Linked DNA regions of Homo sapiens: region 1 is reported to be linked to region 2. Evidence: microRNA targets listed by miRTarBase, many of them from high-throughput screens and not tested one by one. Region 2 holds a microRNA gene; the other region holds the end of a gene's coding sequence.
The links. Region 2 holds the annotated microRNA hsa-miR-550b-3p (UCUUACUCCCUCAGGCACUG, at 2,583-2,602, opposite strand). A microRNA usually pairs through its seed, bases 2 to 8, with sites in the 3' UTR of a target mRNA and lowers its output. Matches are read on the target gene's strand: a 7mer-m8 pairs with bases 2 to 8, a 7mer-A1 pairs with bases 2 to 7 and ends in A, and an 8mer does both.

Region 1 (4,220 bases), not on the chromosome of region 2:
GTAGCATAATCAATTCTGTTCTGCCAAATAGACTGAAACCATGCTAGCATCAAAATGTTAGTGATTCTGTGCATTTTGATCATGGTCTCTGTATTTGCTGAGGAACACAGATTTTCAAAGCATTTCTGGGTCATCCATAAAATTCTAATATTTTTAAGGGTATTGATGACCAAACTTGAATATAGCAAATAATAACCTGTCTCTACATGTAGTTTAAATAATGGATTCTACAATAAAAAATGGGAACTTTTTTACCTTCTTGATTTATGGAAAACTATCCTTGAGTAGCTATTTTTAAAAAAACACTTCGAGTAAACACAAATCATTTTGTTAGTCATCAGCCTTAATCAAATGGCATCCATTTTCATAATGAGAATAGATCCATGTGCCTAAAGTTTACGAATTAATTAGCTAATACAACCAAAATAAATTAAAGAATCTGCAGACAGTAGAGGTGCTGGGAAGTTAGAATGAGTGTGTCTGAGACTAAATAATTTATCTCTGTGTCCCCAGGGGCAGTAGGTACTCAGTAAATGTTTGTGGAATTGATTTGAATTCAGCCTTTTGAGTGACATTTAACCAACAAAGCATTTTCTCCCTAAATTTACTGTTTTCTAAAGCATGCTTCTTCCTCCCTCCCAAACCCTGAATACACCCCATTAACCCCTTTTAGGGGAACATCACATGATCTTAAAAGCATTTTCCCACCTCACTTTTGAAAACAGTGCACTAATTTTTGCTATGGAGATAATGCCTTGGGAACAGAAGTTCTGACATGAGCCCTATTAGGAATGTCTGACTGTGCCTTTCCGTAAAAAATATACTATACAGAATTTAACAAAATCAGCAGTAAAAACTTGAGCTATGATACATTCTTTAAAAAACAAGCTTATGACAGGAGCCAAATAAATGCACAGCAGAGAATTTCCCAAAGCCTCAAATGTCTTCGAATATTAGGAAATTCCTGTCTTGGGATAAATTTCCAGATCCACCAGATCACCTACAGAACAGTGGGCAGGTTTGAGCAGGCCACTCTTCTGTGCAAAACTCCTCCTGCATACCAAAGCTGCTTGGTGCTCTCACGCACCATGAAGACCGGTTCAGAAAGAACATTTTATGTTTTTAATGGGTGTTAGTTCTGATCATGGAGCTAGACTAGAGTTATTGAGGAAACATTCTTGATCTACCAATAAATATTGTCCTAGGAATTGGTTGAGGGAATATTCTCCTATCAAGCAAGTTTTGGAGTTACTGAGAAATCTTTCTTTTCTGCTTTAAGTCAAGGGTAATTCCTCCATCTGAGATGCCCTTTCCCTGTGGTCATCTGGGGCCCGCCCAGTTTCTTCCAGGCTTCACTTCCTCTATGAAGACTCTGGTGAGCCAGGTGGAGGTGACCACACTCCTCTGTGCTCCCACTGAGTCTGTGCTGACTGTTTTGAGAAAGGGAAGGCAAGAAAAAGGCCTGGCTTAAGTTAGCCTAGCAGAGGTTAGAAAATATATTTAGAGCCTTAACCTCCAAACTGAGAAATCAGAAATTAATTTTTATTTAATTATAACTCAATAAATATTAATGAAGTGCTCCTGCTACACTGGACACTTTGCTCAGGAGCCTCTCAAATGCCTCTCTGCCTCTATAGTCTACTGGAAACCAGAGTGAGAGTGATTTTGGTGCCAAATTTCCTCTCAGACTCATCCATGAGGTCTCCCAGGATAGGAAGCATTTATAATACGGGCCAAGGGTCACCAGTCATATAATACCGAAATGCTCAGATGGCACAGAATGCATGAAGTTAACATCTTTCATTCTCATGAGCTCATTTGCTCCTTGGAAACAAATGGGCAGATTCCTGCTTTGCAGACAAGTCAACAAAGGCTAGGAGAACAGAGCTGCCTCTCCTGCCCTTGACATATTAGCGTAGGAAAATCATACGGACTAGAGGATATGAACCCACTGAAGCACAGAAGGGACCTCCGCAATGACCAGCCTGTCCTCCAGGGAAGGTCTTGGCTAGGCTCATTAGCTAATCCCATATGTAAATCCCTTTGAATATTTTAAGGGAAAATACCCACATAATACTCTGCATATAAAGTTGCAAATCAAACCTCAAAGATCTAGGTTAACTTCTTCAGATTTGGTGATTGACTTCTTTTTTCCCTTCCCCCATGGAATAAGTCCATTGTCTCTCAGCATCAAACAAGTTGGCAGTGTAGTTGATCTAGTTAACCAGGTATCTGTCTTCAGGTTTCTTCAGGGAACTAATCAGCTGGCTATCTTCCAGTCAGCTGGCTATCTTCCACAGTCAGTAGAGTGCCAGAAATCTGATGTAACAGTTTCAGATGATATTTTTTAAAGGCTTGGAGTTATTATTTTATTTTTTTTTTTTTGGACAGAGTTTTGCTCTTGTTACCCAGGCTGGAGTGCAATGGCGCGATCTGGGCTCACCGCAACCTCTGCCTCCCCAGTTCAAGCAATTCTTCTGCCTCGGCCTCCTGAGTAGCCAGGATTACAGCCATGCGCTACCACGCCCGGCTAATTTTGTATTTTTAGTAGAGATGGGGTTTCTCCACGTTGGTCAGGCTGGTCTTGAACTCCCGGCCTTAGATGATCCACCCACCTTGGCCTCCCAAAGTGTTGGGATTACAGGTGTGAGCCACTGCGCCTGGCCAAGACTTGGAGTTATTCTTTAGAGTATGTTGACTGATGTTTGATCAGGAAGTATCTAGTGGTGTTCATATAAATTTTGAGTGGAGTCTGTCTTGTTTTTCATAGTGTCTTCTGGGTTAAGGTAGAACCCAGCACAAAATAGGTGGGCAAGAAAACTCTACTGAATACAAGCAACTGTTGTATTTTTGATATACATGTGAAACTCATACTTCCTTATTTAGATATCTGTGTACATAATCAAAAGAAAGGTAGCTTTTCTCATATGCTGTAGATGACATGAAAACCAACTCCTTCTGTGTGAACATTCATGAGACATACCAACTCTCTTTTCATTTTTTTTAGGCAAGGCATGAAAGTATGTGGAAAAATTGGTGAAGGATTTTGCCTCTGAAAGTTTATACTGTTTTCTAGAGCTTTCCTTGGACTTCCTTCAAAGCTCCTGAATTGAAGCAAATTTATGATCAAATTGAACAATAACTGGACCACTGGTGACCATTGTATAGCAGGAAGGTGTTGAAATATTTCTCTTTCAATCCTGACCCGAGTAGATCATCCATTCATTTAGTGATCAGTGTCTTAATATTTAGAAACTCGCCAATCCTCCAACCCATCTTAATAATATATTTGCTCTCTTCAGCCTTTTTCCAGTTAGTACTCTCATCAGTAAGGCACATGAAGTGTGAAATTTTGGGCCCCAAATTTCATAGCTAAACCGTTGTCCCTGTGGAATGCCCCCTACTCCCGGCCCCAAGAAAACCCCTGGTTATAATTACATTTGAACAAAGAAAATTAGGAACTCGGTGGCAGAGGACTTTCATATAATGATATTTGCTCTCCTCCTATAGTAAGAAGGCTCCAAAGAAGGTTTTATCTTCTTTTGTGTAATCCACCAAAGAGATGTCACTGACGTTCACCATTAGCTTGTCCCCTTCTTGCAAGGAGAACATGGCTCCGAGGTAGATGGGCTGGAACCAGTTGCTACCTACTTCGCATACAGACTTGGTCCCCATGAGGAGCTGGGTTGGCTCAGGGTAGCTGTCTGTTACCTTGGTGATGACCACAGTGATGGAGTCTGGCTTGTTTGGTCGGCCTGCTTGTCTGATTTCACTGCACTCAGAGGTCATCCCACGGAATGTGACCTGGGAGTAAATGAAGTAGTCTCCCGACTCTGGGATCAGCAGGAATTTGTTGGTATAGTTCATTCGGTTCTTGGTGAAGGCCAGGCCTAGTTCATGTTCCCAGTGCAGAGCTGGGAACTGATTTTTAAAGTGCTGTGTGGGAGTTTGTCTCACAACTGGAAAGACAAGAAAGAGGATTAATTTTCTCATTGGGAAACTGTAGACTTTGCTTAAAAAGTGTCTCATATCATTTTCAAAATAGACTAAAGTGATCGAATATACCTAACAGCTAAAAACTGCTTTGGGGAGGAATGAATGAAGAATATGTGACTGGACATACACATTTGTTCAAAGAGAATAACATCTTGGACTAGTGACCTGGGGCAAATTACTTTGCCTTTCTGAGACTGAGTGGTCTGACCTGAAAATTTTTAATT
Region 2 (4,257 bases):
GCTGTAGTCCGCACTGAAGAATATAAAAGGCAGTTTCTGAGAATTGGTGATTAGTGCGAGAATGAAGGGCAAACTGGTTTTTAATGTTTATCATTATCTTTTTAAAGTGAAAATTTGCATTTAGCAATTATTAGAAGATGAATATTTAAGTTTGCTAAAGAAGGGTGAATAGGAAAAGCCTTGTCAAGTTAATAGTTAATATTTATTTAATATGCTGATTTCTAAAAATTCATTTTCTAAGAGCTGATAATTCCCTTTGAGAAACATTATAGTTCTGTGGGTTTATTTTGTTAAGTAAATGCATTCTATTCAGAGCAAGAGACAGTTGAGCCCCATGCTATTCCTAGTAAGTAAAAATACCTAGTTGCTTAAAGTTGGAGATAAAGCATTTATCTTTTTTCTTATCTAAGTTCTAGATTTGTGCACTCATTATAGTTCTTTTAGTGCTGTTGGGGTTGGGTGACTGGGGCCTAGTAGTACAGTGACACTTTCTGAGGAACTTACAGCAGCCTTTCTCACCCGGCTTTCTGGAGACAATTGTGCCGTAGTGTGCAATGAATTTTAACTTTTAGCTCCAGTGCATTTAGAACGGTTTTAGTTATGTATCATTCTTGGAACAATTGAGAAAAGTCACTGAAATAATTTCCTGTGTTTGGTGATTCAGATGAGGAACCTCAGTTGAGAATTGCTGGAAAGACATCAGAGAAATTACCTGTTCTTATTATATGACAGGATCAGATGAAAGTGCCACATCCTGAAATCTCTGTTGAGGCAGGGAGATGGAATACATTTACGTAAAAACCCATCTTAGTGGCATTGCCTTACTGAGATTTTTACCTATATTTTAGTGGACGGGTTATTAGGAAAACAATAGAAGCATGTTTCTCATCATCTTGAGATTTAGGGAGCTAAATGAAGAATCTTATAATTAAAAAAGACTTGACTAGTTCACATTTACTTAACTTTTTAGTATCTATTATAACATTATTGTGTTTATTCAGTTACAAATTGTATAAATGGTTATATACAAATAACTGCATCTGAAAATTGATAAAAGGATTATTTCAGAATTAGTGGAAAGTTCGTATTGTTTTTTGTAAAACTGTTGTTTTAATTGTTGTTTATATTATTAACGTCTCCTAATAAGAAAATGTGGTACTAATAAGATTCAAAATTATTCTCTTGTGAGCTCTCATGTAATTTATAGAAAATGAAAAACAGTCCCCCCCTTTTATTTTTAACACTTAAGAGTCTAGCAAGTGGAATTGTTAGTAGTTCTCTCATAATGAATTGCCACATTGAACGAGGAAGTTTTCTGTGTTGGTTTTATGTTTTGATGTCATTTGGACATCTGTTTTGGCTATATACACTCTTATTCTCTCTAGAGAACTGGAAGAAAAATGCCTAATCCAGATATTTCAGTGTGTAGAAATTTCCTAGAATTGAGTTGCCAGACATCAGAATGTGATTATATTTATATAGGAGTTTTTAGGTGAAGTAAATCTTGTCCTTATTATTCTTTTCAGACTGAGGAGTGTTAAAGTGAACAGACGCTTTCTTGACTACTGCTAGTGTCGTCCATCACCTTTGTTTTAAAACAGGTCTTAAGGGTATTTCCTAATATTTAAAAATGTTGATGGTATTTTAGGGTTTGTTTGGCTTTAATTTACGTCTACGTTTTTTTTTCCACTGTCAAGTAGCTGTTGTTCATAAGAGCATAATATGAGTGGTCAAATAGCCTTTAATGATGCAGCAAGGATGGGGTAGATGAATTGGGCTATAGAAATATACCAATACATGGAGATTATTTCCAGAGAAATCGTGTGGACTTCTATAATGTATCCTTGAGTCCAGAAGTGAAAATGTAAAATGACTTAATCTAAGACAACCAGTGGTGCTGGGTTGCTTTTGGCCTCCTGATTTTCTTGAGCTTTTTTGGGTGTGGCTTGCTCATGAGTATTTCAGTAGTCTGATTGTAACTCAGGTGCCTTGCTACTTGTGAAACATGTTTTCTTATATTGAAGGAGTGTGGGTTATCTCTTAAAACTGAATATGTTGAATAAGACCTGTATTTCTAGGAAGATTTCTCTTAATTTTTAAGGCAGATGTGAAGTTTTATGGTGTTAGGTTATCTTCATCAATTAACCATTATGGAATCGGTCTCAGTTATCACTTCTTACCAATATCAAGTGCCAAAATGTTTGAATTTGGGATATTGTAATTAATCTATTTCCTATTCCTGAATGTTATTTTGTGCCATTGAAGGCTTTTATGGGGAGTGGCCGAAGAGGAATGTTTGCCTCTTTCTAAGAAAAATGAGCCTTCTAACCACAACCCCTGCCACTCCTGAAGTAATAAGAATTTTGGTGGTTATTGTTCCTCACTTGTAATTTCATACCTTCGTGTTACATGTTTTGCTGTGTGTAAGTGTGGCCTGTGTCATGGAAGTTTCTGCTTTGGGAATTTTTTGGAATTATTCTTGACTGCAAGGTGGGGAGGATTGGTGAGTTGCACAGGGCATCACCTGATCTGAGAGCAGCGTGACCTAAGAACCTGGTATTTTGATGCTTTGCTGGCTGGTGCAGTGCCTGAGGGAGTAAGAGCCCTGTTGTTGTAAGATAGTGTCTTACTCCCTCAGGCACATCTCCAACAAGTCTCTTGCTCTCCTCCAATTTGATCGCTTTGCCTGGTGACCAGTAACTAAGTTCTTCTGATTACCAAATATCATTAATGAGATATCAACTTTTAAACTATTTATTATTATTTGGGTTTTAAGGAGAATTGCCCTAATATTAAACTTATTACATGTAGTATTATGTATAATTGGGTATATTGGCAAATGTGTTAAAAGAGAGTGTAGGAACTGCTTTATGTAGCAAATTACTTCCTAAGTTTTATGTGAATATTCTTAAGAACTGTTATTTGAAATGTTAGTCTGTGTTTTAATTTTGCATGTACATGACATTTATTTGTTAAGAAATTGGACAAAACATAGGCCTTTTTGTGAACAAAGGGTTCAGAAATACCTTAGGTTCTGATTTTATTCGTTTTCTAAGCTGCTTATTCACAAATGACTGCAAATTTAGTGGTTCTAAGCAACACGTTTATTGCCTTGCAATTTCTGTGGGTCAAGAGGCTGGGCACAACTTAGCTGTGTCCTCTTTAAGACTGCAGTCAAAGTGTAGGTCAGGGCAGGGTTGTTATCTAGTGACTCAACTGGGGAAAGGTCTGCCCACAGACTTCCTTGGGTTATTGGCTGAATTTATTTCCTTGTGTCTGTTAGGTTCAGAGCAGCTTGCTTCTTCAAAGTAAGCAAAGGAAAGGTGAACTGGTGCTATGTTCTTACATAATCGTGTACATGTAATCACATACAACCCATTGCCTTTGCTGTATTTCATTCATTAGAAGCAAGTCATAGGTCCAGTTCACGTGCAAGGGGAGGGAATTATACAAAGGTTTAAACACCAGGAAGTGTAGGAATCAAGAATAGTCACATCAGTTCTTTCTGCCACATGGATTATAGATAGATTGACAGCTGAACATGTAACTTCTTTTTTAAACTCATTTTAATTTACTTTTAAAAAGTTGTACTAATGCATATGGTTAAGTATAGCATTAATAAACATGAACTTAACCCCTTTTAGGGGCTGGACATTATAGATACTGAGGGTACAAATATGGAGCTTCTTTATGCACTGCTCAACTCTCCATTGAATTTGAGAGATGGATATATGTGATCATTATACAATGCAACAAATTCTGTAATAGAACTGTTAACAAAACACTTAGTGAAGTATCTTTGTCTAGGCTGGTCAAAAAATGCTTCACAGAGGAGGGTACGTTTGAACTGTAGTTTGAAGGATTTAGAAGTTGTACGGAGAGAGGGCAGTACAGACTAAAGAAAAATCCACAAAAGTGTGGGTTTTGATAGGGCATACTGAAAAGTTAAATATGTCTGGATTGTAGGGTGCATAGAGGAATGATGAGAACCTGAAGCTAGAAAAATAGAAAGTGGAGCCAGTTGAAAGATTTTATAGTGCTGTAGGTTTGTTTTATCTAATGAAGTTTGAAAGCAGGGGGAGTATCATGATTAGGCCATTGGGCACAATTAACACTCGTAGTTTACATGGATGGCAACCTTCTCTAGTGGTGCAGACTTCAGGCTGTATGCAGCAACCCTGATCAGGATTCAGTTCTTAAGGAGGAGAGTGTGATAGCAGGAGAATAAGTTAGGATTCTTTTAAAATATAACTGATA

Region 1: the mRNA of TNFSF15 is a reported target of hsa-miR-550b-3p. The part of its 3' UTR that is shown has no 7-base or 8-base seed match.

The regions. Positions count from the first base shown.
Region 1 is chr9:114,786,948-114,791,167 of GRCh38, forward strand. TNFSF15 (TNF superfamily member 15) reads right to left here. Exons shown (of 4, transcript NM_005118.4): 4 at 1-3,959. The coding sequence ends at 3,505. Among named protein-coding and RNA genes, the nearest start is that of TNFSF15, 17 kb to the right of the region's middle.
Region 2 is chr7:30,287,232-30,291,488 of GRCh38, forward strand. MIR550B1 (microRNA 550b-1) reads right to left here and starts at 2,659; the gene lies at 2,563-2,659. All of the region lies in intron 1 of ZNRF2 (zinc and ring finger 2), which reads left to right. MIR550A1 (microRNA 550a-1) reads left to right here and starts at 2,563; the gene lies at 2,563-2,659.